7 linked regions of the Homo sapiens genome follow. The protein of the gene in region 7 purifies or fractionates together with the protein of the main gene of each other region. This does not show direct contact. Each region holds a gene or a part of one and is shown on either strand. Other genes may lie near its edges.

The links.
Region 1: the proteins of ST8SIA4 (region 7) and STK39 purify together in Homo sapiens (affinity purification with mass spectrometry; 2 studies listed by BioGRID and IntAct, with this or other methods). This does not show direct contact.
Region 2: the proteins of ST8SIA4 (region 7) and ITGAV purify together in Homo sapiens (affinity purification with mass spectrometry; 2 studies listed by BioGRID and IntAct, with this or other methods). This does not show direct contact.
Region 3: the proteins of ST8SIA4 (region 7) and RUFY1 purify together in Homo sapiens (affinity purification with mass spectrometry; 2 studies listed by BioGRID and IntAct, with this or other methods). This does not show direct contact.
Region 4: the proteins of ST8SIA4 (region 7) and ITGA7 purify together in Homo sapiens (affinity purification with mass spectrometry; 2 studies listed by BioGRID and IntAct, with this or other methods). This does not show direct contact.
Region 5: the proteins of ST8SIA4 (region 7) and PLXNA2 purify together in Homo sapiens (affinity purification with mass spectrometry; 2 studies listed by BioGRID and IntAct, with this or other methods). This does not show direct contact.
Region 6: the proteins of ST8SIA4 (region 7) and ACTA2 purify together in Homo sapiens (affinity purification with mass spectrometry; 2 studies listed by BioGRID and IntAct, with this or other methods). This does not show direct contact.

The regions. Positions count from the first base shown.
Region 1 is NC_000002.12:168,139,596-168,143,095, reverse strand, and holds part of STK39 (STE20/SPS1-related proline-alanine-rich protein kinase), read left to right. Parts: intron 1-2,337; coding exon 2,338-2,447; intron 2,448-2,705; coding exon 2,706-2,807; intron 2,808-3,500. UniProt on the Homo sapiens protein: Effector serine/threonine-protein kinase component of the WNK-SPAK/OSR1 kinase cascade, which is involved in various processes, such as ion transport, response to hypertonic stress and blood pressure.
Region 2 is NC_000002.12:186,677,056-186,679,228, reverse strand, and holds part of ITGAV (integrin alpha-V isoform 1 preproprotein), read right to left. Parts: intron 2,033-2,173; coding exon 1,937-2,032; 3' UTR 1-1,936.
Region 3 is NC_000005.10:179,595,554-179,599,053, reverse strand, and holds part of RUFY1 (RUN and FYVE domain-containing protein 1), read right to left. Parts: intron 3,151-3,500; exon of another isoform or gene 2,493-3,150; coding exon 2,373-2,492; intron 2,233-2,372; exon of another isoform or gene 2,093-2,232; intron 802-2,092; exon of another isoform or gene 699-801; intron 363-698; coding exon 233-362; intron 1-232. UniProt on the Homo sapiens protein: Activating adapter involved in cargo sorting from early/recycling endosomes. Regulates retrieval of proteins from endosomes to the trans-Golgi network through interaction with the dynein-dynactin complex.
Region 4 is NC_000012.12:55,694,405-55,697,904, reverse strand, and holds part of ITGA7 (integrin alpha-7 isoform 2 precursor), read left to right. Parts: intron 1-82; coding exon 83-210; intron 211-358; coding exon 359-454; intron 455-627; coding exon 628-689; intron 690-836; coding exon 837-1,006; intron 1,007-1,472; coding exon 1,473-1,622; intron 1,623-2,267; coding exon 2,268-2,383; intron 2,384-2,934; coding exon 2,935-3,127; intron 3,128-3,209; coding exon 3,210-3,290; intron 3,291-3,382; coding exon 3,383-3,462; intron 3,463-3,500. UniProt on the Homo sapiens protein: Integrin alpha-7/beta-1 is the primary laminin receptor on skeletal myoblasts and adult myofibers.
Region 5 is NC_000001.11:208,038,385-208,041,884, forward strand, and holds part of PLXNA2 (plexin-A2 precursor), read right to left. Parts: intron 1,675-3,500; coding exon 1,608-1,674; intron 1,384-1,607; coding exon 1,237-1,383; intron 601-1,236; coding exon 441-600; intron 91-440; coding exon 1-90. UniProt on the Homo sapiens protein: Coreceptor for SEMA3A and SEMA6A. Necessary for signaling by SEMA6A and class 3 semaphorins and subsequent remodeling of the cytoskeleton. Plays a role in axon guidance, invasive growth and cell migration.
Region 6 is NC_000010.11:88,942,774-88,946,273, forward strand, and holds part of ACTA2 (actin, aortic smooth muscle), read right to left. Parts: intron 1,135-3,500; coding exon 1,024-1,134; intron 1-1,023. UniProt on the Homo sapiens protein: Actins are highly conserved proteins that are involved in various types of cell motility and are ubiquitously expressed in all eukaryotic cells.
Region 7 is NC_000005.10:100,851,283-100,854,782, reverse strand, and holds part of ST8SIA4 (CMP-N-acetylneuraminate-poly-alpha-2,8-sialyltransferase isoform a precursor), read left to right. Parts: intron 1-3,500. UniProt on the Homo sapiens protein: Catalyzes the transfer of a sialic acid from a CMP-linked sialic acid donor onto a terminal alpha-2,3-, alpha-2,6-, or alpha-2,8-linked sialic acid of an N-linked glycan protein acceptor through alpha-2,8-linkages.

The sequences.
Region 1 (3,500 bases), on a different chromosome or scaffold from region 7:
TAGAGAAATGTCTGTGGTTTTGTACCCAAGTGAATCTGGCTGCATTCCCTTTGGCTGTATAGATGTACCCCTTAGGAAACAAGGACAGCTTTTCACTGTTACAGTTCTGCCACCTTGTTCTAACTGTCATATGCAAGCTATCTCAATATAATATACCAATTTTTTGTGTATATAACATAAGCACACTATGTACTTTGCTCAAAATGTTCTGTTACTGAGTACATATAATCTGTATACACATCAGCCGTACATAGGAGCAAATTGTATATTTCTTCTGTAGTCATAGAGGGAGTAGATATTAGGATTGTTGTTTTCTGCTCCTGAAATTTTTGTTCTGAGTTTTAAAGACATTTAGCCATCTGTTTATGACTTTAAAGTGAGTGTTCAAAGTGGAGGCTCTGAATGTATGTATCATTACAGATATATTGAAAGGGTATTGTCAATAATAAATGGCTACTATACATCTTTTTCGGCTGTTTTCTAACTTTTTAAAATGTGTAATGTAAGCAGGTAGTATTTTTAAGGAAGTGGAAATATATCTAATGTTAACTATGGATTTTTACCTGGATTATGTCTTTTAGGAAGAGACTTTAGGGTGCAGAGTTGCTTCAATTGCATTTAAAATAATCAATTTTTCCTTAAAGCAGCTTTTACCTGTATCCTTAATTTATAGATGATATGTATTTATTTCATATTATATTATAAAATCATTTTAATAAAAATGAAATGTTGGATTCATCGTTGAACTTCTTTTTAGAAATATAAATTAAGTTGAAATTAGTAGCTTTCAAAGTTTTATCATATATATTTTTTCCAGCAGATATAGTAGATGCTTACAAATATTTTAATTCACCTAACTCTTCTCTAAGAGAATGAATTGTATCTTCTCCCACCCACAGGAGACTGACTGGTTCCAGAGATTTCTTTTCACAAGACTTCAGTTTTCTGGCTGCAGTATAAGAATTAAAAGGGCTTTAGAGTTGGAAACATATATGCATATTAAGTTATTTAGCAGTTTAAACATATATACTTTTATTCAATATGAACATGAGAGTAGCAGTTGGAACAAAGACTCCATTTGTCAATTTTCATTCCTTTTATTTGTAGTTGAAATCCTGTTGGGAGTATGAGTAAATTTAAATATAAATAAAATGCAACATTCAATGTATTTCTACTCAGGAAACCAGTTACAATGTTATTAAGTTACAATTGCATAAACTAACCTTATAGGCCTACAGCAAATGCTAATACATTTTGACCTTGGTTTGTACTTGAGGGTGTTTTTTGGTAATTGCTGTCACCCTGACAGCCAACAAGGGGGACTCGCAAAGGAAAAGCGTATGAGAGCGATTTGCAGGGGCTCAGACTGCACATTGCGCTGTGGTGTTTTGATGTGTTGCCTACCTGTTTTTATTACTACCCACCAGCTCGCTATCAAGTAGTCCTTGACCTGGCTATCATTGATAGGTACACTAGTCTTGAGTAATTGGTACTTTAACTTATCAACTACTTTTAACCACTGTGTAAAAATGAAAGCAAGAATAGTACGTTAATAATTGCCAGGCATTCCCTTCTGTACTGTACATACAAATAGAATTTTTACACATGTGCCTGTATGTATATATAGGTTGAGTATCCCTAAATCAGAATATGTGAAATCTCAAATGTTCCAAATTCTGAAACTTTTTGAATGTGAGGTGACATTCAAAGGAAATGTTCACGGGTACATTTCAGATTTCTGGTTTTCGAATGAGGGGTACTTAACTAGTTTAGTATATAATGCAAGTATTTTAAAATGAGAAAAAATCCAAAATCTAAAACATTTCTGGTCGCAAGCATTTCCGGATGCTCAATCTGTACAGTATGCCTAATTAATTCATCTTCTTATAAAATTAACTTCTATATATAATGAGTTAAAGTTAAGAAAAATATTATTTACTTGTACAATCCATTGCCTCTGTACTTATGAAAATTGTCCAGAAAATCAGTCTTTGCTGACTAAGCTTTTTTGCATATGGACATACTCGGGCATGTTGGCTTTATATATCTTATCTTTATATACCTCAGCTAAAAGCTAACACCCTTTATATTTAATTTGGTATGCTAAGCTTTTGGACCGGCAGGCTTGTGGCCCATTACCAGCGATGGTATTCTCCAAGGTGTAGGGGATAGCAGAGGGCAGGTCTTCCTTTTTTTTCCTGAGAGAGCACCGTAGACATGTTTGGAATAGTTCATCACCACTGTAAAGCTCACAAAGAAGAGACATGCTCAAAAAATCACAATTTATAAGCAATAATGTCTTACATAAAATAAAGGTGATTTTTTTTTCCCTTTCAGATTTTGGGGTAAGTGCGTTCCTAGCAACAGGGGGTGATGTTACCCGAAATAAAGTAAGAAAAACATTCGTTGGCACCCCATGTTGGATGGCTCCTGAAGTCATGGAACAGGTAAAAAAACAAAAAAAGTGACTTTTTGATGGACATAGTACAATCGTACAGATCATTAATATGCTAACATTTCATTTGTATCTAGCATTTTAGTAGAATGCATAATGTAACTAAGATTTAATTCTCAATTGCTAGCTAATTAGCAAACTAACGTGAAAGTTATACATCAACAGCTGTGGATTTCTGACATGACATGGACTTGATGATGTGTAACATGCCTGCTGTATGATTGTGTTTTTTTCCTGCTTTCTTTCTTAGGTGAGAGGCTATGACTTCAAGGCTGACATGTGGAGTTTTGGAATAACTGCCATTGAATTAGCAACAGGAGCAGCGCCTTATCACAAATATCCTCCCATGAAAGTAATTACAATTGGAAATACTACATCGGGGTTGAAATGTGATTGGACGGAATCTGTTTTCTAATTCTCTTCAACATCTTCATTCTTCTCTTAGACCCGAGGAGAATTAATGGAGGAACGCAGCCAAGTTGAACATTGTCTGATTTTCTCAGTGGACAGAATAGGACAAAAGTAGCATAATTCCCAGCTTTGAAGCTTGCTTTATAGTCTCAGCACAGAGTTAAGAAAATAATGTTATCAGATTGGTTGATGGAGGTTGATAGCTATGACAAATGCTGGTCATTACTCTTTTGATAGCAGAACAACGCCAGGTTCCCAGAGAATATCTCAAAATAGATTATAGTGATGTCATCTCTGCAAATGGGTTTCCCAGATTTTCAGAGCTTTTTTTTTTCTTTCTTTTTAAGTGGACTACAACATTTTTACCCCTGCTCTTATAGTGTAATGTTGGCAACTGATCTGATATAAGTGAGCCACAGTGTTTTTAGGATGCTATTTTCACGTTTCTGCTCTTCTTTTAACTGGTTTATACCTCATTATTTCTCTTAGTTCTGAGATAGTGGTATCAGGGCTTATTTACCCAACTGGATTTTGTTTTGAGGCTGAAATAGTTTAGTGAAATTATAATGCTATTTTACATAGAGTATGGTCTATGATTGTTTCATGGTTACTGGAAAAATTTGGGAGGATTTAT
Region 2 (2,173 bases), on a different chromosome or scaffold from region 7:
ACATATTTTCAGAAATGACTGTTACTAGGTGGTAAAACTGTTAGGGTAAAATTTGTTATAGACTAACTTACTGATTGGTGGCAGGCAACACTTGGCCCTAGGATAAAAATATTTTTCTTAAAAAATTTTAAATTTATTGGTAATAAAAATACTTACTGCATATGATTAAGCTCTTTCAAGCTACTAATAAAAATCTATACTCCAAGACCCATTACTTTTGAAATTCACTAAAGCTAAAATAGAAGGTTTTGTCTAGAGTCCTACCTTGTATACCTCAACTAAATGTGCTCCTATTTTACGAATATATTCTCAAGATTAGCTCAGTCAACTTGTGCATGAAATTATGAGATATGGCAAGATAAATTTCAATCATTTTTAAAACACAGCAAAATAGTCAATTATTTAAGGGAAATATTTATCATTACCTAATGAGGACAGCAGTTAAAGAGCTATTAAACTCTCCATTTCTAATGTACAACATGATGTAATTGCACAAAAATAGGTATAACTGATCATCATCCCCAGGCCTTGAGGAACTGTGAATAAATCATATATTCCTCTAGAAGGTTCACCACTCTACAGAGCCATATAAAACTACAACTTGCCACCTATGTGGCTTTTATTAATAATCCTAGAAAAGTAATTTATACTAACGAACTTCAGAAAGGTTTAAAAGGTTTTCAGTAACTTGAACTGCTTATAAAAATACCTTTTAGAAGTTATTCTGACAGCCGAGACTGATTTTACACATTACCTTGCTTAAACAGAGGTAATATTCCTGTAACATCATGCTATTGCTAGAAGTAAATCAGTGAGTTGCCTTAAGAGTTTTTATTCCAAGCATTACTCATAAAGTTGGGGTAAGGGGTCCAGGTTCCTGTCAACTGTAAAGATTTCTCACTGATCTTGACCCATTCTCAGTAACAGTTTTGGAAATATAAGGAAAAGTACATGAATGGAGGAAAATAAATTAATACTAACTAAAAACTCTGCTCTACTCTAAGAATGTAATACTTACTATATGCATAAGCAACTATCTCAAAGAACTACACAGTATTTTAATAAAAATGCTTTTTTTATACTGTAAATAGCCAGACTAAAACAATGGAATAAATATGCTTTGGAAATAATTTCCAACTCCATATGGCTTTAAGCATTATGATATTCAGGTGAAATTAAACAATTACACAAAAGAGCCATTTGTGATTATGGAACTAATTTTTAGTATAGGTTGGCTTGAAGGATTTGACCTAAAATTTATACAAGTTAAAAATGTAATAAAATATTGTGGATTTAATATAAACAGAAGTGTAATAGGATCTACCAGATTTTCATACTAAAACAAAATATTGTACCTTTGTTATTAAAAGCAAGAATTTGGATGGTATCATGTATGTGTTTATAAAATTCTACCATATGAGTGATTAAAAAAATCCAAGTTCATGCAGTTATAAAGTCTTTAGTATTCTGAAAAGTAAACTGTAGTGTAATATGTATTAACATTAAGTACCTATACAAAAGACATGATTGCTAAGGTCCAAATTTGGACTGCTTTAAAACAACAACAACAACAACAACAACAACAACAAATAAAGTTCCGTACATTAAATCAGAAACAGTAACTGAAGGAGGTACTATTTTATATAAAGTAGTAAATCAGGCACTACCTGTCTTATATACATTGAATAAAAACTATCCCTTGAAATTTTATTATTTAAATACCTAAAAACACAAGTCACCCTATGTTATTAAATGTATGTCTGAACTTATTTATAAGGAGAAGGTTGACAAATATAATTCTCATTTTGTGGTTAATGCCAATTAGCACTATCAGCAGTAAAGCCTTGGATTTTTACTCCTCATGAAGAAAGTTTAAATCTATAATAAAGTTGCTAATTCTAGTGGGTCAAGATGTAGCATAACTTAAAAACTGCAGTTAAGTTTCTGAGTTTCCTTCACCATTTTCATGAGGTTGAAGCTGCTCCCTTTCTTGTTCTTCTTGAGGTGGCCGGACCCGTTTAAAAAAGCCCATCTGTCAGTTGAAGAAAAACCATTATTACTGTCACATCAGTGTAGAATACGAAAAGTATTTTTTGGGTGACTATATTACCACTAAGAACATTTAAATTGTATTTCATAAAATTTATCTTCCCTCATATAATAAGTAATGCTC
Region 3 (3,500 bases), about 79 Mb from region 7:
TGCTTTATTCTCTTCATGGCACTTGCCTCTATCTGAGCTGCCAGCAGGCTTAGTGGTTTATGATTTGTCTTTGTCTTATGCTCCTAAAACAGGAGCTCCCTAACAGCCTCCCCACACCCTGGAGCCGCCTGGCCCCCACACAAAGGGTGCGGGGAGAGGAGCCTGCCCGGAGCATGTTAGGGGTTTCTGGAGGCTGCCAGAGGCTCTCCTCTCCCGGGATGGCCCACCTCACCTTTTTCAGTCCTTCCACTTGTTGCAGCTCCATCCTGAGTAGAGAGGAAGTGTCTTTCTCGTGCTGTAATTCGCGCTGAAGAGCCTGTCTTTGCTCTTTTTCTGATTTCAATTCTTTCTCCAGGCTTGAGCTGTTTTCCCAAAATGAACTTGAGTTAGTCTCAGTGGGAGACTTTCACGGAAGATTCACAACCCAATTCACCGCCCAGGAAACAGGGAAGTCTCTGAATTGCCTCTTGAGCATCTAAAGCCTTCGGCAACGCTTCCCTCTCCTCCAGGGTCACCTGCCCTTCCACAAGAAAGAGCAGGAACCAGGGAGAGAAAAGCCTGCAGGCACACACTTGACACTTACGCAGGGGAGAAGGAAGAGAGCTCTAGAACACTTAGACCACATAAGCAGAACCCTCCCGACATGGAGACCTGAGGAAAGGAAGCTCAAAATTCGTTCTTTTCTTTTTTTGAGACAGGGTCTAGCTCTGTCACCCCAGCTGGAGTGCAGTGGCGCAACCTCAGCTCACTGCAGCCTCGACCTCCTGGGCTCAAGTGATCCTCCCGCCACAGCTTCCCAAGGTGCAGAGATTACAGGCATGAGCCACCTCACTGGCCAATTCATTCTGCTTTTTGTTTTTTTTTGAGACGGAGTCTCGCTCTGTCGCCCAGGCTGGAGTGCAGTGGCACAATCTTGGCTCACTGCAACCTCTGCCTCCTGGGTTCAAGCTAGTCTCCTGCCTCAGCCTCCCTAGTAGCTGGGATTACAGGCACACGCCACCACGCCCAGCTAATTTTTTGTATTTTTAGTAGAGATGACGTTTCACCATGTTGGCCAGGCTGGTCTTGAACTCCTGACCTCGTGATCTCCCTGCCTCGGCCTCCCAAAAGTGCTGGGATTATGGGCGTGAGCCACCGCGCCCGGCCTCATTCTGCTTTCTACAACCTACAGCCAGACTGACAATGAAGGATCCTGGAGGGAGAAGGCCAGGAGGGAGCCTCAGCCTGAAGCTGACTCTGCCCTTTACCAGCTGAGTGGCCCTGGGGGCACTGCTGGACCGCCTGGAGTCTGCTCTCTCTTTGTGGGAATAAAGATGTCTCTTCTCTCTTCTCTCAACATCAGGCTTTTAACTTGGCATATATATTATCTCAAAAAATCTATAGGCCAGGCACGGTGGTTCACACTTGTAATCCTAGCATTCTGGGAGGCCGAGACGGGTGGATCACTTGAGGCCAGAAGATTGAGACCAGCCTGGCCAACATGGCAAAACCCTGTCTCTAATAAAAATACAAAAATTAGGCTGGGCGCAGTGGCTCACGCCTGTAATCCCAGCACTTTGGGAGGCCGAGATGGGAGGATCACGAGGTGAGGAGATCGAGACCATCCTGGGTTAACACAGTGAAACCCCGTCTCTACTAAAAATACAAAAAATTAGCCAGGTGTGGTGGCTGATGCCTGTAGTCCCAGCTGCTCGGGAGGCTGAGGCAGGAGAATGGCGTGAACCCGGGAGGCAGAGGTTGCAGTGAGCCGAGATCGCGCCACCGCACTCCAGCCTGGGCAAGAGAGTGAGACTCGGTCTCAAAAAAAAAACAAAACAAAACACAAACACAAAAATTAGCCGGGTGTGTTGATGTACACCTGTAGTCCCAGCTACTCAGGAGGCTGAGGCACAAGAATCGCTTGAGCCCAGGAGGTGGGGGTTGCAGTGAGCTGAGACTGCACCACTGCACTCCAGCCTGGATGACAGAGTGAGACTTAAAAAATAAAAAATCTGTAGATGAACTGTGCACAAAATTATATGAAGCTTGCATCAGCAAAGGCTAGGTGAAAGGTGACTTTCTGTTCAACACTGACAAAGCTGTTTCTTTTTAGAAAGGGTGGTTAAGGGTGATACAGGCTGTGACCTGGTACCATGGTTTGAGAGTGGCCAGATCTTCTGGAGGCGAGCTGGACCACGTGAGGAGCCCTGTGGGGAGGGAGCTCCCTAGGGATAACATACGAACCCTGCAGGGGTGAGTGGTGAAGCAGGATACCACCTGCCCCCCCGCCCCCCCTCCTCCCGTTCGTGCTGAAGCAGGATACCACCTGTCCCCAGTTCTTCCCAGTCCCTCCTGAGCCACACCCCAGCCCAGGCTCCCTGCAGGGCCCCTACCATTGCTCGTGCAGCTGGGAGAGCTGCAGCTGCAGGGCGCCGATCCTCCCGCCCAGCTCCTGCTGCAGCTTGTGGCTCCGCTCCTCAGCCCCCTGCCTCGCCCGCTCCGAGTGCTGCAACCTGGATGCGACACCAGCAAGAGTGCAAATGAAGCAAATCTTTGTAAGGAAAGGATGACTTTTGCTGGCTGAAATTCATTTTTAAAATTACCATACAGTAAAATTAACTCTTGTGAGTTTTAACACGTGGAGATTCAGCTCCACCACAATCAGAATACAGGACGGTCCCACCACTCCCAAAACTCCCCACCTCAGCCCCTGGCAACCACTCATCTGTCCTGCAACAATATGGCTTTGGCTTTTTGAGAATGTAATCTCAATGTAATTATACATTATATAACCTTGAGACTGACTTTTTCTCAGAATAATGTCTTGGAGATCAATCCAAGTTTCCATGTGTATCAATGGTTCATGCCTTTTGTTTCCTCTCTGAACGTCCTGAAAGGGCAGTGGTTCATTCCTTTCTACGGCTGAGTCATACTTCACCGCACAGACGTACCACTTTGTTTATCCATCACCCAATGCAGAACATTGGGATTGCTTCTAGCTTTTGGCAGTTATGAACGGAGCTGCTATAAACATATGTACTAGTTTTGGTGTAGACATAAGTTTCATTTCTATTTGGATCATATGGTAAGAGGACGTTTAGCTTCTTGAGAAACTGTTTTCCTGAGTGGTTGCACCATTTTGCATTCCTACCAATAAAGTATGAGAGATCCATTAGCTCCGTGTCCTCATCAGCACTTGGTATTGTCATTAAAGAAACGGTAGCTGGCCAGGTGTGGTGGCTCATGCCTATAATCCCAGCACTTTGGGAGGCCTAGGTGGGCAGATCACCTGAGGTCGGGAGTTCGAGACCAGCCTGATCAATATGGAGAAACCCCATCTCTACAAAAATACAAAATTAGCCGGGCATGGTGGCAGGCACCTGTAATCCCAGCTACTTGGGAGGCTGAGGCAGGAGAATTGCTTGAACCTGGGAGGTAGAGATTGCGGTGAGCTGAGATCGCACCATTGCACTCTAGCCTGGGCAATGAGAGCGAAACTCTGGCTCAAAAAAAAAAAAAAA
Region 4 (3,500 bases), on a different chromosome or scaffold from region 7:
TGGGTGGAATCAGCAGAGGCATCAGGGGAGGCAGAGGCCTGCGGGAGGTGGGATTGAGGGAGGCTGACAGCTGGTTCTCTAGGTGCTGGAGGGCGAGGCTGTGGGCATCAAGAGCTTCGGCTACTCCCTGTCAGGCAGCTTGGATATGGATGGGAACCAATACCCTGACCTGCTGGTGGGCTCCCTGGCTGACACCGCAGTGCTCTTCAGGTGAGCCCCTCTCAACCTTTTCCCTCCCTGAGGCCGTCAGCCCCTCCCTGTGACTCTGACCCCGACCTCAGTGCCAAATCTAATGCTGAAGAGTGTTTCCCAGCCTCATGTTCTCATGTTTCTTGTGCTCTTGACTCCCCAATCCCAGGGCCAGACCCATCCTCCATGTCTCCCATGAGGTCTCTATTGCTCCACGAAGCATCGACCTGGAGCAGCCCAACTGTGCTGGCGGCCACTCGGTCTGGTGAGGTGGGATCGGGTGGCACCTGGACCCTGGCAGCTTCCCCTGCCCTCCCTTTGATCCTTTATCTCCCCAGTTTGGGGCTGGGGCTGTGACAGGATGTGACAGATGGGGTGGGGGTAGGGGCCTTGGCCCATCAGCCTCGTTTGGCTCAGGAGCCACCTTTGCCCCCGCAGTGTGGACCTAAGGGTCTGTTTCAGCTACATTGCAGTCCCCAGCAGCTATAGCCCTACTGTGGGTGAGTGCGGTCCCCCCTCTGTGGCTCGCCCTTTTGGGTTTCCCAGGGAGGGGGGTCACTTCGAGGTGGTAGAAGAGCACCCTTGGAATGGGGTGAGCTGGAGCAGCTCTGCAGCTCAGCAGCTCCTCCTTTCCCAACATGCCACAGCCCTGGACTATGTGTTAGATGCGGACACAGACCGGAGGCTCCGGGGCCAGGTTCCCCGTGTGACGTTCCTGAGCCGTAACCTGGAAGAACCCAAGCACCAGGCCTCGGGCACCGTGTGGCTGAAGCACCAGCATGACCGAGTCTGTGGAGACGCCATGTTCCAGCTCCAGGTGGACACTGACCCCTTGGCTTCTGAGGGTCATTTTCATGGCTCCATCTCTTTTCCCTGATTCCTCTTAGCTGCTTTTTCCCGAGCACACTCGTGCCTCCTTCTAAGACCTAGACACGTGGGAAACCTGTCTTCTGAGCTCACTTCCTCCTCATCTGCTGCCCTCTCCTGTCATTTCTGCACTCCCTGGAGGAGGAGGAGGTGCAAGGGGCTTCATGTCCCCTCTTCCAGCTGAATGGAGGAGGTGGCAGCTTTTATCATCACATCTGGTCCTCAAAGCCCTAAAGGTTTCCCCTGTCCCCTACCCCAGTCTTTCTCCCTCCTCCTTGCTCAGTTCTCCACCTCTCTCATTCATCTCCCTAATATTCTTTCCAAGTTTTAGAATTGGTCCTAGGTCTGGCTGGGGCACTGAGCAGGGCTGAGGCCTGGGGATTGTTCCAGTGAGGAATAGACCTTCCTCTTCCTAGGAAAATGTCAAAGACAAGCTTCGGGCCATTGTAGTGACCTTGTCCTACAGTCTCCAGACCCCTCGGCTCCGGCGACAGGCTCCTGGCCAGGGGCTGCCTCCAGTGGCCCCCATCCTCAATGCCCACCAGCCCAGCACCCAGCGGGCAGAGGTGAGCATGGGTTCTGGTTTAGCCCAGGGGGAGGAGCTGGGAGGGCAAAGATCATGGTCCCTCCCCAGTGACACCAATTCACAGCTCACAGAGCCCTTTCACGTATGCTACTCCAGTAATTCCTCATATCTCTAGGTGCCTAAATGACCATGTTCCTAGTCAAGGGGACAGAGCTCCTCTACTCCATGTAGTCATTCAGGGGGCTCAGGTTGATGGGATTCTGTAATCTTCAAATGCGGCCTTCAAGCTCTTGAAGTCACATTCATCCCATTCAGCTGGAAGGGAGAACATGAGGCCCCTTGCTTGCATGGTTTTTATGGCTGGCCCAGAAGTGGTGCCCTTGACATCTTTTCCCGTTCTAAATCCGGAACTCAGTTACATGCATGTGAGCTGGGGCAGTGTGGCCCAGCTCTTGACTTGCTGCTAGTCTCTACCATGGCATGGTAGTGCTCCCATCACTACCATGATGAGAGGACCCAGAGGAGAGGACCCAGTTCAGGATCACATGGCTAATAAGCAGCAGATCTGAGAGTTGAGGACAGGTTGTTTAATCCTGTGATACTCTAACCCACCATATGCCATGGTGACAGGTTTGCCCCCTGCCTTGCCCCCTAGGAATGCCCCTTATCTCATGTCTCTCCCCAGATCCACTTCCTGAAGCAAGGCTGTGGTGAAGACAAGATCTGCCAGAGCAATCTGCAGCTGGTCCGCGCCCGCTTCTGTACCCGGGTCAGCGACACGGAATTCCAACCTCTGCCCATGTGAGGGGGGCAGAGAGCAGGGTGGGGGTGGGAGGGCAAGAGTTCAAGGATTGAGAGAAAGCCCTCTCAGGAGGACCAGTCAGAGGGAAGGGCTGAGCCTGCAGAAAAGGCAGAAGGTGGAAGAGGACCTGCCGATGGACTTGGAGACTGAGATGAGGGTCAGTGATGGGGCCACGGGGGCTCCCATGGCAAGGAATAGCAATCCTTCACAGTACACTAATAATATGCAGTCTACATACATCTCATTGGTTAGTCTTCAAACCTCTGTGAGGTAGGAATTATATTAGTCTCATTTTATAGATGGAGAACTGAAGCCTAGAGAGGTTAAGTTACTTGGCCAAGGTAAGTAATGGTGGAGCTGAGATGAGAACGGAGGTCCCCTGACTCCCAGTCGTGTGTACAGAGGCCTGAGGCTTGGACGGGTGTGATGGGGACCTGGGGTGGGAAGAGAGGCTCAGGGAGTGAAGGCAGGTACTGGGGGAGCAGACTGGGCGGGGGAATGGTAGGGGGAGGTGTTCAGAACTTAGCAGGAGTGGGGTCTGACTCTCCAGGGATGTGGATGGAACAACAGCCCTGTTTGCACTGAGTGGGCAGCCAGTCATTGGCCTGGAGCTGATGGTCACCAACCTGCCATCGGACCCAGCCCAGCCCCAGGCTGATGGGGATGATGCCCATGAAGCCCAGCTCCTGGTCATGCTTCCTGACTCACTGCACTACTCAGGGGTCCGGGCCCTGGACCCTGCGGTGAGGACCTGGGGGCAGGATGGGGTGGGGTCTTGAGGGGCTCCAGTAACCCAGACTGACCTTGCCTTCTCTCCCATTCCAGGAGAAGCCACTCTGCCTGTCCAATGAGAATGCCTCCCATGTTGAGTGTGAGCTGGGGAACCCCATGAAGAGAGGTGCCCAGGTTGGCACATCTGCCCTTATCCCTACGTGAGTAGCCTCTCCATAAGCCCGTAGACCACCCCTGACTCTAATCTCTTTCCACCCTTGGCCTAGGTCACCTTCTACCTCATCCTTAGCACCTCCGGGATCAGCATTGAGACCACGGAACTGGAGGTAGAGCTGCTGTTGGCCACGTAAGCCAGGCGGGGCCGGAAGGGTGAGGTGGGGGTAG
Region 5 (3,500 bases), on a different chromosome or scaffold from region 7:
GTGTGTTGAGCCGCTTCCAGTCACCCTCAATCTTGGTGGTGATGTCCTCATCTTGCAGCACGACCCGGGCGATCCGGCCTTGGCGCCACTCTGGGTGGAGGGGGTGGTGCAGGGAGCGGCGTGAGAGGGATGAGGGCTGTGAGCCAGTGTCTCCCGATTGCACCTTCTCTAGGGACCTGGCAACCCGGCCCCCTCAAGCTGGTACCAATAACAGAGGCTAGAGACATCTAGGGCTCCATGGGCCCAGGCAGCAGAGGAAACACGTAGACCTCCCCAGAGACAGCCACATCTGAACAGGCAGCGCTCAAAGCGGGAAGCATTTCACACGGGCCTCAGCTGGCCAGGACACAGTCATGCCCCTGCAAGGGTTGTGTGCATGGCAGCTTCCCTTCCTTCACCTCTCAACCCCTGCCCTCACACTCTGAGTCCAGGTTTCCTACCCAAGTCCATGTCCACTGCCCTCGGCCGCTGGGAATAGGGCACATTCTTATACACGGCATCAAGAATCTTCTCCTTGACCTGTGTGATGGTGTCACAGTTTAACACCTTCACTGGGATCTCTGGACTGTTCTCGTTGTCAGGGTTGACGCAGTTCAGGATCTACAAGTAGGGGACAGAGGGTGAGCAGGACAGGAGTTGAAGGAGTAGTTTGAGGGAGAGGGTCAGGACCTCAGAATCTTCTTTTTCCAAAGTTCACCCTCCTTATAGGGGAAATAAGGGTACTTTTCTGGTCTGTGACTCAGTTTCCCTCACCTTCATAACATCTGCCAAATGAGAGTCTGAGTCATTGTGTCCAATTCTTCTTTCTCAAAGCACCAGGACTCTACTTTCTAGCTCCTGGACAGCTTAGGGGAGACTATAGTCCTGGAATGAGGCACCCTCAGTGTTTAGAGATGGCTCTACATGTATCAGAGACTAGTCATGCACTTCCCCAAAGCCTCTATGTTAGGAACCAACATACATCTTTCTCATAATACCAATTACCCAATAACTAATGATGGGTGAACTTTTTTCTCCCCCAATATTATCTAGGATAAACCGAGGCATAGAGTGCTTGGGATGGGTGGGCGGGCCTGCCACCTTGCTCTTGGTACACTTAGTTGTCCTTTGGGCTCACCCCAGACCAGCCTCCCATCCTCTTTATTGACCCCCTAGACTGCTTTTATGGACAGAAGGCAGAGCAAGGGGCAGAAGTAGAAGATACACAGGCGGGCCCGGAGCTTCCGGCTTCCTCACCAGGGTCTTGTACTCGATCTGCTGCCGGATGAGCTTGTCCTCGCTCAGGGAGTAGCGGGCCTCGCCCGTGATGGCATCAATGGGGCCCTTCTCCATCTGCTGCTTGATGGCACAGTATAGCATGAAGAGTGGCTCCCCTGCGCACTCCTGTGGGCACAGACAGGGCAGGAGGTGTGGGCACGGCCTCCTCAGGTTTGTACGTTTTCCCTTTCCTCTCTCGGAGCGAGGCCAGTGGAAGGAAGGGCTTTAGCACAGCCAGTCCAGGTTCCTGCTCCCGAGGGAGGGGGTCCCCATGCAGCCCTGTGGCCAGGATCTAAGCAGCAGTGCCATCCTGCCCTGGACGCTAGGCCCCGTCTCACTCCCTTTCTCACCTTTAGGAACTTGTGCAGGAGGAAGGCGAACCAATTGGTCAGCATCTTTTCAGCCACAGACTCTGTCCTGGGGAAGGGACAAAGGGTAAGGGGCAGTCCTTCACAGAGGGGTCTCCGTGGTGGGGCCTGGGCTTGCCATGAGGTCTCCCAAGAGAACAATGGAGCATGGGAGAACGCAGGGCGGGAGTCAGGACACCTGGGTCCCAGCCCAGCTCACCCAGTAACTAGACTGTGACCTGGGGGTAGGGGTGGCTTCTTTCTGGGCCTCAATTTCCTATGAAAATGGAGAGGTTGGCCTTTTCAGCCCTGATGGTCCGTGGTGCTCTGAACTTTGGCTGCATCTGAGACAGGGTCTGTGGATAAAGGCACCTCACTATCCCACAGGGCTATAAAGAACCGGTTCTCCCAACTCACTTCTGGCCTCAGGGTGATAACTAGAGAGTTTCCCAGTCCCTCTGGGCTTTCTTGCATGTGTGAGTACCCTGTTTTGCCTATCTGGAAGGTGCCTGGTCCCTTCCCCTCCAAAAACACTCAAGGTTAGACTTCCTTGGGTTCAAATCCTGATTCTGCCATACGTTGGCTGTGTGACCTTGGGCAAGTCATTTAACCTCTCTGGTTTCAGTATTCCTATCACTAAATGGAGACAGTCATAATAACATCCAACCCCAGTGGTTGTTGTCAGGGTTGAATGAGTTAATATTTGTAAAGTGCTAAGAAAAGTGCCTGGCACCTGCTAAGCACTATCCATTAGCTGTCATTATTGCTGTCATGTGGGGTCTTGGATCCCAGCCCTCAGGTAGAGAGCAGTGCTTAAGTGTTTTGCCAACAGGGGATTTGCTCATGCAAGGGCTGGCCCCCCTCCCCTTCCCATCCCAGGGCTACAGATCTGGGGATTTGGGAAGGAACAAAGCGGCTGTGACAGACCCTCAGTGAAGGGGATGCCGGAGGGGTATTTTAACTCCCTGCACGTGGTGCAAATTATATCCTCTGGTTGCAGTAAATCCCAGGCATTTGCCAGGGCTGCTCAGCAATCTGGGCCTGGGAGAGAGTGACAATGGCAGAAAAAATTGTAGCTTTCTCCCGTGGCTCCTCCCAGCACCCTCTCCCTGCATTGTGCTTGAGATTAGCTCTAATTTAAATACAACAGTTCTTAATGAGAGTTTCTAATGCTCAGATTGGCAGGATGGGGGCTCAGTACTCATAAAGCAAAGCCATTCTTCCTCCCTCCTCACCCCACGTGGGGCCTGGAAGCCTGAGACCTTGCTAGAGGAAGGCTAAAGAGGAGGGGTGGTGAACGGAGGTGCAGCCCTCCAGCCCCTGCTGCCCAGAGGACTCCAAAGCTGTGCCCGGCTCCCCACGGCCTCTAGAGAGGGTGGGCTCAGGGGATACTGAGGTCTCCAACCCTCTCCCCTGCCAGGAAAAATGCAGTGGGCATGTGTAGTGGATGCTGTGATTCAGATCCAGGAAGCTGAGCTCAGAAGGCACGGCCTTCTAGGCTGTCCAAATCCCTAGCTCAGTGCTGCGCAATAGAACCTTCTGCGATAATGGGAATGTTCTCTATCTGTGCGGTCCCGTATGGTGGCCACTAGCTGCAATGTGGCAACCAAGCACTTAGAAAGCGGCTAGGTGCTAGGGCAATGGAGGAGCTGGATTTTACATTCTATTTCATTTTAATTTGTAGCAGCTACCTGTGGCTAGGGGCCGCTGTGCCGGACAGCACAGCTCTAGAGGCACCGGGAGGAAGAGACTGTGAGATAGGAATTATTTTTCTCATTTTGTCTAGGAGGAAACTAAACAACAGAGTGGTTACAACACTGGCCAGAAATCACAGAGCTAGCAGGAGGCAGAGCTGGGACTCCAGCTGAGATCCGAGCAAGGGTCTGAGCTCATCCA
Region 6 (3,500 bases), on a different chromosome or scaffold from region 7:
AGGAACAATAATTCATCAGAAGCAACATCTCTTGCGACGTGCAGTGATTCCCAGGCCCACAGATGTTCCCCTGTAGAGAACAAGTGCTAGTGGGTTGGTGCAAGCACCAGGAGCTCTTCTGAGGAAAAGGCCTTGCAGTTATTTACATTTATGATTCTTCAATGCTGGAAGATCGTGGATCAATCCCAGGCTTTGCCAGTTCTAGCTGTGTGACCCTGGGAGAATTACTTAATGTATCTGAGCCTCAATTTCTTCATTTATGTAGTCAATATAATCATAGTTCCTGCTTCACATTGCTAGAACTTAAAGAGACAATGAATGTAAAATGCTGAGCCCAGTACTTGACCATAACAAGTATAGAATTGACACTAGACGTTGTTATTTAATAGCTCTTCCAAACTAGAAAACTCAGAGCTCTGTCTGGTGGGCTGGATGGGATTCTATTGTGAGGTCTTTAGCTTCAAACAAGTAATAATAATGACAATAGTAAGTACTATATTTTGGATGTTTATTAGGAACCATGATACACATCTGTCATTTCACCTCATTAATGTTCACATCAATCCTTGGAAAAATGATAGTATTAATATTACTCCCAACTTATAGACAAGGAAACTGAGGCTCTGAGAAATTAACGGAGTTCTTTAAGGTCACATAACTGATAAGTGGCAGATCCAGTTTTCAAACCTAGATATGTCTGACTCTGGAACCCAAATTCCTATTGTATGTGATGCTGCATTTTGAAGTGACTTCTCCTTAGACATTATAACTTAAACGTGGCCCCTTCTCAGTGAAATCTTTTAAATTTCCTATTGCTTTTGGAGGCAAAGGGCTGGTCCCTGCAGGAAGGATGCAAGTACTTTCAAGCTGTTCCTGTCCTTTGGGATCCCTGAGTTCACTGAAGGCTGTTAGTCTGTTGGTGGACTCCTAGCTCCGGCCTTCTCTCTGCTGTGCTGCATAGCCTCCTTCTAACAGAAGTTTCCCCAGACCCCACAGTGTTGTGTGCTGGGGTAGCATACTTACTTGAGTCATTTTCTCCCGGTTGGCCTTGGGGTTCAGGGGTGCCTCCGTGAGCAGGGTGGGATGCTCTTCAGGGGCAACACGAAGCTCATTGTAGAAAGAGTGGTGCCAGATCTAGTGAGTTGGGGGACAGAGGAGAAACACAATGATGTGCTGTCATGAGGTCCTGCATTTCCCAAAAAGGGACCAGAAGCTACTTGAAACCAAGACCAAAGGAAATGCTACAAGTACTCATGCATGTGTCCATGGTTTTATAGATGCAGAGACTGAAGCTCAAAGTGTGTAAGTACCTTCCCAAAGGATTCACATCTACTAAGTGACTGAGCAGAATCCCTAACCCAGATCTGTGAGGCAGGATGGTATGGCAGTTAAGGGCACAACCCTTGATCAAACCTTGGGTTCAAAGCCCAGCTCGGACACTTCTTAGTTGTGTGAGCTTAGGCAAGTTTTTAACCCTTCTCAGCTTCAGTCTCATGATTGGTAATAGGGAGATGAAAATAATTAGTGTGTACCTCATCGGGTCTTTGTGTAAATAAATAAGGTAACCCTCGAGTTATTGTCCAGCCCAGTGTCTGGTCCAGAATCAATGTTATTATTATTCAACTCTATTTTCTTTGTTCTCTCTTCCCATTTTAATGTTCATGGGAAAATGATTTAATTTTGTAAATAAAAAGACAAATGAATGTATATATGAATAAATGACGCTTACTTGAAAACCTAATTGACACTTTTAATGCTTCTAGAGAAGTTGCCCTTTGCAGTGTACATGAAGAAGAGAACAGGGCTCTCTGACTCTTGCCTCCATCACCCTCTTTGCTCTCGAGGGATGAGAAAAGCTTCCTCTATCAGCACACTCTGGATCTTCCACTCACAGTCAGACATTTGGCCTTCAGGTGTTTCCAAAAGGCCCACGCCTGTGTATAGTGTGTCTATGTGAAGGTACTTTGGACATAACTACATTTATTTATGGTTGAGCACTTTCTTTAATTCCTAGATGCCGAAAAGAACAAACCATTGCAAAAAGGACTAAATTAATTAATCTTTAAAAGCACGAAAATTCTCCACCAGAGCCAGGAATATGAGATTCACTCAAAATCAAAACAGAGCAAAACAAGAACTGCTGGTGAAAGCTTACAAATTAGCAAAACCAAGATTAGCTTTAAAGACTATCTTATTCCACTTTCTTTTGTTTTGGATTTGTGGTTTATAGAAGGGAAATGAAACTTCTGAAAGTTTTGTTTCTTTAGTGGAGTGAAAGCAGCAGACTGCTCAAAAAATCCTGCCAGTCACAGCAAGCAACCTTTCTCCTCTCTCTCTCTTCGTCCCCACCAGAAGATACTTTGAATTTAAATTTTAGAAATAAGGAAAGTTTTTTCTTCCAATAGTCTCTGTCTAGGACGATACATTCTAAGATGTTGTCAGCTCCATGGAGAAATTCTAAAAGAATATTTTCCTATTGATATTGATATCTTTTTCTCTGTGCAAACTGCAATCTTACCAAATCTAGAATCCTCAAGCAAACCTACTGATATGAAATTTTTGTAGAAAGATAGAGCTTGGAGCATTACTGCTGATAAATTCTAACAACATTATGTATTTTTCTTTTAAGTGATAAATTGTGTGCGTAGTAGTAGTAGTGAGCCGATAGATAAATAAAAGGCCAGATATCGTGATTCTGATATATCTTGCTGCATTTAAAATTTTTTATGTCACTTTCTCATTATTTCTTCTGTTTTTTTCTCTGATCACTGGTGTCTGTAATGTTTAATGACCAAACATCAAAATCTTAGAATTTAGCTCTTCTTCTCATTAGCTCTTTTATTAAGTGTCTGGGAGATAAGGCCTCATGTAATGCAACACAGATAAATAATTTTTAAAATATTTATCATATAGCTTTTTTCAGTGGCTCTTGTGCTTCAGTGTGTGGAGAGGCATTCAGAAATGTACCAAACCTGCAATGTTACACTCCTGTTTACTATAGTGAAAACAAAAACATTTTTAATTTAGATGTTTAGAGTGAGTTAATGAAAACCTTTCAAGAATGGGCTGTTTAAGACTACTCCCAGCATTTCAAGCCCCTTTAGCTATATTGCACTGAGAGGGATAACCATGCAGCCCCTGATGAAAATGAAAGGAGGGTTTTCATTCTCTGAGCTGCTGCTCATGCACTGCTTGTCCTAGGAGGGCAACAGAGTTGACGTGAGCAACAGATGATTAATTCCCTGCAGTGGCAAAGGGCTACTCTTCTCATCTACAGAACTATCATCCTTTAATTAGTTAATAAAACCTAATAGGCAAGGACATTTTTTTCCTTTTCTTTAGAGACAGAGTCTTGCTCTGTTGCCCAGGCTGGAGTGCAACAGCTGATGGTATGATCAGCTCACTGCAGCTTCGAACTCCTGGGCTCGAATGATGCTACCACCTCAGCCTCCTGAGTAGCTGGGACTACAGTTGCATGCCACCACACACTGTTAATTAAA
Region 7 (3,500 bases):
AGACTTAAAAATAGTTTCTTATACTGTAATAGGAACTGGGCTAAGGTATTTTTGTTTTGTTCCTGAGATAATTTCCTGCAAGGATTTACCATTTCCTGTTTAAATCTCTAGATAGTTTCTTGTATTGTATTATTTTGCACACAATTAAATTACATTCTTTTTTTGTTTTTTGTGTTTTGTTTTGTTTTGTTTTGTTTTTTGAGACAGAGTCTCACTCTGTTGCCCAGGCCGGAGTGCAGTGGTGCGATCTCGGCTCACTACAAGCTCTGCCTCCTGGGTTCACGCCGTTCTCCTGCCTCAGCCTCCCAAGTAGCTGGGACTACAGGTGCCCGCCACCACACCTGGCTAATTTTTTGTATTTTTAGTAGAGATGGGGTTTCACCGTCTTAGCCAGGATGGTCTCGATCTCCTGACTTCGTGATCCACCCACCTCGGCCTCCCAAAGTGCTGGAATTACATGCATGAGCCACCGTGCCTGGCCTAAATTGCATTCTTATAATTAGATCATGTTTACTCAACACACATTCTCTTGGTGGTTGACAGGAAGTTTCAACAAAATAAGATAAAAATACTGCATTTGGAGAGTAAGTCACCGCCTTTTTTTTTTAAGTTACAAATATCCCTGGTAATTACAATTTGACTCTTAAAAAAATGTGCATCTTAAGAAACTGTAACATTACAGTGCATTGTGTTAAGAACATGTCTGTTTTTGTTTGGGTATCATGTTACTCTGAAAAACACCTTAAAAAGATAATGTTTCCATCTTAAACATACACACACACACACACACACACACATACACACACACAAACACATTCCAGTGATAGCAGATTAAGTTTTAGAAAGAAATAATCTGAAGTAAGTCCTCCCTGACTATGGAAAACTAATGAGAAAACTTAAGATTACTCTGAATTAGTACCTTTGTTTCCTAGATTTTGGTTTATATTTCTCAATCCAATACCAAAACCAAAGCATGAAATAAGAGGAGTGACTGCAGTAGTGCATTTTCAGTAAGTTAGAATCCAGATAGTGTTATATATGATTAACAGTGAATACACATGGGTTTTTACAGATATTTTAAACATAAACTTTGCAGATTCTTTTAGTAATTTAACAAGACTCCTATCTTTTGTCCTATTCACTTTTATAACCATTATAAATATAAACTACTTCACTAATTCCTAACCATTTTATTCCAAAGAGCAACAAGGCCAAACTTCTGACCACTGGTGAAAGGAATGGTATGCTTTTTTTGGTTACTATGAATTAGGCATATTTTCTAAACTGATTTTGAATTCTGTAGAAATAACTTCTCTCTCCACCTTCCTGTTCACAAATCTACATATACCCTCTTAAAGTGTCAAGGTATTGAGTTCTAAACTGTGGCCAAGAATAATGAAAGTAGCTCTAGAGAGGCTTGTGACTTTTCAAATAGAATGGAAATTTGTACACATGGTGTACGTGTGAAAGGCAACTTCATTTATGGATTTTATTGAAACTAATACATTGATGTATGTAAGATAGCGTTTTGACCTAATGTGTGTACTTGCTGCTGGAACTGTAAATGAAAATAAGGAAGTGTGAGCGCTGATGAAACAAAAATGATTTTTGTGATATGAAAGCAAAGGCAAACTCCCCAAAGAACTATTCTTTAAGTAACTGTTTTACATCTCCTTTGACTTACCTCTCTGAAACCCTGTGGTTAATACAGTTCAGCAAAATAAGAAGTTTCATATCCTCTGTTGATTACTGGAGTTGGTTGCCTCTCATGAGCAATTAAAGCACCCAAGACACAGAATTTAGGGTGTGTATAATCATAATGTTAAAATGTGAAGGCTCTTCCAAGTACTGCAATTAAAATAAAAAGTTTCAGTGATTTGTAAAACAAGATTCCTGAACACAGTGAGGATCATTTAGATAGTTTTCATATGGTCAGACATCATTACTTAAACATTTTGCCCTCCAAAAACTGTGATTCCTTACTAACTTTAAAAACCTATTTAATTTTAGATTTTTCTAAAAGCTCTAAAGATGAAACCATCAGTCACAAAATTCAGATACTCTTAGGTATTGTTGTAATATATTGTCATTCTTTTGAAACCATATTCAGTAAAACAGAAGGAAAAGATATATAGGTAGATTCATAATTTAAAAAGAATCTTGAAAAATAGTAAGAGAGTAATCTAATGGGGACAAATCAGATATATAAATTGCAAGTTTAAGAGAATGTATGAAAGCATAAAATTGGTGTGGGATTGCCACTTTTTTACTGGTATTTCTTCAGAAGCCCCACACATGGGCTGCATTTTTCAAATTAACATTTTGTATTTTTTTTTTTTAATAAAGAATGGAGCAATTTTGGGCCCAGTGCAGTGGCTCATGCCTGTGATCCCAACACTTTGGGAGGCCAAGGTGCGTGGATTACCTGAGGTCAGGAGTTTGAGACGAGCCTGGCCAACATGGCGAAACCCCGCCTCTACTAAAAATACGAAAAAGAGCCAGATGTGGTGGCACACACCTGTAGTCCCCGCTACTTGGCAGGCTGAGGCAGGAGAATCACTTGAACCCAGGGAGGGAGAGGTTGCAGTGAGCCGAGCTCATGCTACTGCACTCCAGCCTGGATGACACAGTGATACTCCGTCTCAAAAAAAAAAAAAAAAAAAAAAAAGAAGAGTGGAGCAAATAAGATAGTAAGCATGAAGAGGGGATTTGGGGACTTCAAAGTCATTTAAAAATTTGGCTACAAAATGTAAAATAAAAGCTTCTTATTTATACAGTTCTAAGAAAATTATTAATATACAACTTAATATCTTAATAACCTGTTTAAATTAATGACAGTTTTATATAATATTTTAAATTATTATCTAAGACATAGCTCAAATACATTTTTATAAAATACTTAGAGTTAGGTAAAAATTCTTATTTTACAGTTACTTTAATTTGACTAGTAATAACCAAGTGTTGTTTTTACTTTGGTGGGATGATTATACTTAATTTTCTTACTTTTAATATGGGAAAAAAACAAACATTACAGAAAGTGTATCCTCAGTTTCAATATCAAACTATGACGAGAATTTCTTAAGAATCCTTCCAAAAAACCTATAGATAGACAGATAGATAGAGAAGCATATTTTAAAATTATGTTTTATATGCACAAACCTAAATATGTTTTTATTGTAGTAGCTCTACAACTCGAATCATATGTACTCTTTTGCACTTTATTTTTTAAATTAACATGACATTTTCTCAACAACACATAAATACAGCTTGTTTTTTTTAATAGGAAAGTATATTCCATTATATACTTTTCTATAATGTATTTAACCAATCTTGTTTGATGGACATTTGTAGTACTTCTCATTTGTTCTTGTTGTATATAATTTTATTTTGTTATTAAAAATATTTTAAATTATAGGAAAAATGAGAGGTAGGGAAAGGAAAGTAAATATACAATTCTGGTTAGCTGATTTTATAAACTAATAGTATATTTTAAAATATAA